2 separate regions of the Homo sapiens genome follow, and region 2 is linked to region 1. The links come from fine-mapping of genetic effects on gene expression. Tissue or cell type: whole blood. Region 1 holds a variant in brackets; the other region holds the start of a gene. All regions are shown on one strand. Distances are from middle to middle.

Evidence for each region. PIP is the estimated chance that this variant, and not a neighbour inherited with it, causes the effect.
Region 2: TRAPPC9 starts here. The variant in region 1 is fine-mapped to the expression of TRAPPC9 in whole blood (INTERVAL, PIP 0.94).

Annotation. Positions count from the first base shown.
Region 1 is chr8:140,269,111-140,271,788 of GRCh38, forward strand. All of the region lies in intron 15 of TRAPPC9 (trafficking protein particle complex subunit 9), which reads right to left. All of the region lies in intron 1 of LOC105375779 (a long non-coding RNA gene), which reads left to right. Among named protein-coding and RNA genes, the nearest start is that of PEG13, 170 kb to the left of the region's middle. The variant G/A (reference allele first, on the strand shown) is at 1,362.
Region 2 is chr8:140,456,611-140,459,288 of GRCh38, forward strand. TRAPPC9 (trafficking protein particle complex subunit 9) reads right to left here and starts at 1,134. Exons shown (of 23, transcript NM_001160372.4): 1 at 1,029-1,134. RefSeq lists silencers at 679-728, 839-1,228, 1,319-1,558, 1,679-1,988 and an enhancer at 1,388-1,906.

The sequences.
Region 1 (2,678 bases):
CACGAGATTTGCACATGTCACTGTACATGTATTTTACCAAAAAAAAGTGAACTCTAGTTAATGGTACATGTGCTACAGCATTTAGGGGTAAAATATACTGAAAACTGCAACTTACTTTAAACTGCATTAAAAAAAAATAAGATGGATTTGGCCAGGTGCAGTGGCTCATGCCTGTAATCCCAGCACTTTGGGAGACTGAGGCGGGCAGATCACGAGGTCAGGAGATCAAGACCATCCTGGCTAACACGGTGAAACCCTGTCTCTACTAAAAATACAAAAAATTAGCTGGGCGTGGTGGCAGGTGCCTGGAGTCCCAGCTACTCGGGAGGCTGAGGCAGGAGAATGGCGTGAACCCGGGAGGCGGAGTTTGCAGTGAGCCAAGATCGCACCACTGCACTCCAGCCTGGGTGACAGAGCAAGACTCTGTCTCAAAAAATAAAATAAAATAAATAAATAAATAAATAAATAAATAAATAAATAAGATGGATTAAAGGATGGATAGGAGGCTGGATAGATATGTAATAAGGCAAATATAACAAAATGTTCATTACAGTACCTAGATGGTTTGTATGTAAGTGTTTGCTATAAAATTCTTTCAACTCTTCTGCATGGTTCAGTATTCTTATAATAAAAGTTTGAGGATGGAATGATGGTTGATACAGAACAAGTTCCAGATGAAGTCAGAGACATAAGGAACACCAAGGATGGTCGGGCACGGTCGCTCGTGCCTGTAATCCCAGCACTTTGGAAGGCCAAGGTGGATGGATCACTTGAGGTCAGGAGTTCAAGACCAGCCTGGCCAACTTGGTGAAAGTACATCTCTACTAAAAATACAAAAAATTAGCCAGGCATGGTGGCAGGCACCTGTAATCCCAGTTACTCAGGAGGCTGAGGCAGGAGAATCTCTTGAACCTGGGAGGCGGAGGTTGCAGCAAGCCAAGACCACGCCACTGCACTCCAGCCTGGGCAACAGAGCGAGACTCCATCTCAAAAAAAAAAAGAGAAACACCAAAGGCTAAGGTAGCCTAGAAAGGTGGGACAGAAGCTGGACCTTGAGATGAGACCTCAGATGACCAAGAAGCAGAGGAAGGCCTCTCCGGGAAGGGGGCGGTGTCTAAGGTAGAGCAGCAGAGGCAGTGACCTGCACAGAGCAGGCGTGGAGAGGGGAGCATCTAAGGCAGAGCCGTGCCGCACATTCAAAATCGCACAGTGGTTCCCACACGCTTGTCTACGTCCTCCACTCAGCCAACAGGAGAGAAAGGCATGCTCCCATCAGCCTCATTCTCGAAATGCGGCTGATAGGGCCATGCCACCAAATGTCTTTCCGTCACCAATTACTCGGTACTGAGCACCTGCTATGT[G/A]CCAGGCCCTGGAAATAGAAGAGAAAACCCAGTCACTGCCTTGGAGAGACCATACCCTGATTAGAGAAAGAGACCAATAAAGAAGCCATCACCATACACAGTGGCAAGACCTCCTGTGGCACTAAGTCAGAGCAGCCTGAGGCAGCAAAGGAGACCCAGGAGCCCAGGCTTAGGCAGGCTTTCCAGAAAGGGCAGCCAAGCCAGAGCCCAGAGGATAAATGCTCCGGAGCTGAGGAGGCAGGAGGGGTGGGAGAAGTCAGCATGGCGTGCCCGGGGAGGAAAGGGTGTGTCTATGGCAGATGGCAGGAGCATCCAGGAAGCCAAAATTAGCTCCTGACAGCAATGCGACTCCAGCTGAAGAGGAGAGGTGGCCATAGATGAAGCCAAGCATGGGGCAGAGGCTGGGCCACACAGGGCCGCGGGGGCCAGGGCGACAGCAGCCACTCATGGATTTCTGAAGACAGAAGCAGGTGAAGACTTTTGCTTCAGAAAGAAAGGGGGATTTTGTAATGAATAATGGGCACACGATTACCACAGAGTTTATTTGAGGTAAGGAAAAAATGTTTTCCAGTTGCTAAGCTGGGAGGGCAAGTTAAATTACAGGAGATGTGAGAAAAGTTTGCCACGTAGACTGTAATTTTCTGTAATTCAATATTAGCTTGCTTGTTCAAGTATCAACCAAACTCTATAACCAATTAATTAAGTTCAGAGTACCAGATGAAGGATTTTATGCCAGAGAAGCACTTTCTACCTCACCCAAATTGGTCCCAAAAGGAGGGTGGGTAGGAAAGCATGAAATTAAGGTAGTATCATTAAATTTCTCAAAGACTATACAAAGTTTTTAAAATAAGACACAAATAAACAACATTTTTAAAAGAAAAAATGATTAAATGAACCACATTAAAGTTAAGAACTTCTGTTCATCCAAAGCCACCACTAAGAGGTAAAGGCAAACAAATCATAGTATGGGAGAGGATGGTCACGCCACGCGTCCAACAAAGAGCTCACACCAAGGGTATACATAAAGAAGTCCTCCAAGTCAGGAGAGATGGGGAAGGGGAGGGAGAAACAGAGATAGAGACAGAGAGAGAGAAGACAACCAATGGGGGAAAAAAGGGCAAAGTCCTCATACAAAAGAGGATATACGAGTGGCCAGAACATTGGAAAAGTGCTCAACTTCACCAATCATCGGGGAAAAGCAAATTGAAACCCGAATGCTACACCATTATATACCTCACTCTCACCACTCTCATCTCAAGAATGAATAACATGAGTGCAAACACCAAGTAAAGGCAGGTGAAATGAATCTATGCCATT
Region 2 (2,678 bases), 190 kb after region 1:
CACAACAAAACCTAGCCAGATCTTTAGGACGGCAATGTTCCTGGGCCTCCAACATCATCCACCCGGTGCTTTGTTTCAGGTTAACAAATAAAGATGTCATAGGTAGCTATGACTACCTTAGAAACACGGGACAGTCACCAGTTTAAACTGGGGCCGTGAGGGATGGAAGGGAAGTCACTCCCCCATACCTTTCAACTGGGCCTTGCTTCCAGCGTTTTAATTCCTCTCTCTATAGAAACATTTGAAGACAGACAACGCATCCTAACACGGGAAAACTTTCGGTTAACAGACATTCACGTTGGGAAGGTCTGCAGGGGTGGAGGGGATTGGGGTGGGCTGACAGGGAGAAGACCACAGGCCAGTAGCCTGACTTCCTCTCCCCAGGGTTCCCTGGGATAAGTTGGAGTTGACAGCGCGCTTATCCCAGAGAGCACCGCCTGATGCCGCCCAGCTAGATCGCAGGCACTTTGAATCCAGGAGACAGGAGGGAAAGGGCTAGGGGAGAAGTCCGGGAACTCAGGGCGGGGAAAGCGCCGGGGGCGTGGGCTGTGCTGGGCCCCAGGCCCCAGCCGCGCGTCCCAGACCCCGCGGGCTCCAGTGGGCTTAGCCAGGCCCAGGGGCGGGGGGCTCCAGCGCCGCGGACGGCCCGGGAGGGGAAGCCAGGCGGAGACAGCTCGGAGGCACAGAGGGGAAGGGGACCCCCGCCGCGAGCTCGGGAGAGCAGAGCCGGCCCGGGCAGCAGGTGTGGGCCGGGTCCCGGACAGGTGTCCGCCGAGTCTTCAGCGGGTGTGGGACACGGCCTTGGACAGATGTAAGCAGAGCGCCAACAGGAGCAAGGGCGCCTCGAGCAGGTGCACGCTGAACCCCGGCCCGGCAGCGGACCCGGACAGGTGTGGCGGGCTCCGCCCGGACAGGTGAGGGCCGGGCGAGCCCCTCCGCGGGACGCGCCGACTCCACGGCCAGCCGCGCAGCCCTCCCCGCAGCCGGTCCGAATTGCCTGACCGGGAGCCCCCCCGCTTTGCACTTACACAGCCGGTGGCCCCGGGCCCGGAGCGGGAGCCCACGACCTGGCGGGCAGCGGGGCCGAGCAGCCTCTGCGGCCACTTCCCAGGCTCTGGGCTGGCGCTTCCTACTGGCGGCCGAGCCGGCGCTGCTCCTGCGCGTGCGCGGAGGCCAGGCCTGGGCCCCCGATCCGTCCCGGGTTTTGCAAGAGACGCGAGGGAAGCAAGGGGGTAGGAGCGAGGGAGAAAAGAGGAAGGAGGAGCGAGGGAGAGAAGAGGGGACAGGGAGGGAGGGGACATGGGGAGGGAGGAGGAGGAGGGAGGAGGGAGAGAAAAAGGTGGGGTGAAAGAAGGAGGGAGGAGGAGCGAGGGAGAGAAGCGGGGACGGGGAGGGAGGAGGAGGAGAGTAGGAGGAGGAGGGGTGAAAGAAGGAGGGAGGGGCAGCGAGAGAGAGAAGCGGGGGACAGGGAGAGGGTGGAGGAGGGAGGAGGGAGGGAAAAAGGAGGGGTGAAAGGAGGGAGGAAGAGGAGGAGGGAAGGAGGGAGATGGAGGGAGATGGAGCGAGGAGGGAGGGAGGGACCGGAGCAAGAGAACAGAGACTAGGAGGAAAGCTTCTGCACCTGGGGCGGCGCAGCTGGAAGGAGGCCCAGTTCTGTCCCCGCCGCTTACCAGTCCTTCAGGGCGCGCAGCTCAAATTTCACTTCCTCTGTGAAGCTCAGGGGTGGAGGCCCCGCGGAAGCCCACTGTGGATCCCTGCGGCACCCCCTGTGACCCTCACGGTACCCCCCGTGACTCCCACGGTCGTGCCCCCCACGTGGGTGGGTGACCGTGGCGCGCGCGGCCTGGGAGCGCCTCCAGGATCGCAGGGCCCGGGAGGCACGTGAGGTGCGAGCCCCAGCCTGGGCCGGCTTCCCCCTGTGTGGCGCGCGGTCTTGATCCCCAGCTGGCACCATGGCACTCCCGACTTTGAGGGCCCCAACAATCCATCCACATAAAAGGTTCCAAAGAGGCGACAGGGGCTAGGACAGCTGTCGTTAGTTCAGTGCCAAGGCGCCAAGCTTGCTAAGTGCGGGCAGAAGCCATTTAAGGATTTAAACCCCTCTGGGTTCAAAAATAAAATAAAATAAAGCAGGAGATGGGGGAGGCTTACAGACTTAAGATGCCCAGCACATGAATTAACAGTGGCATCCGCAGGGAAAATTGAAAACAGAGAGCCGCTCTCCGTTATGTATGTTTAATGTTCTGTTTGAATCTTTTAACATGTACATGTATTTCTTTTTCAATTAAAAAATCCTGGCCAGGAGAAATGGCTCACACCTGTAATCCCAACACTTTGGGAGACTGAGGCGGGTGGATCACTTGAGGTTAGGAGTTCAAGACCAGCCTGGCCAACATGGTGAAACCCCGTCTCTACTAAAAATACAAAATTAGCCAGATGTGGTGGCGCGCGCCTGTAATCCCAGCTACTCAGCAGGCTGAGGCAGGAGAATCGCTTGAACCTGGAAGACAGAGGTTTCAGTGAGCCGAGATCATGCGATTGCACTCCAGCCTGGGCAACAACTGCAAAACTCTATCTCAAACAACAACAACAACAAACACTAAAAAGGGCTGGGTGTGGTGGCTCACACCTGTAATCTCAGCACTTCGGGAAGCCAAGGCGGGTGGATCACCTGAGGT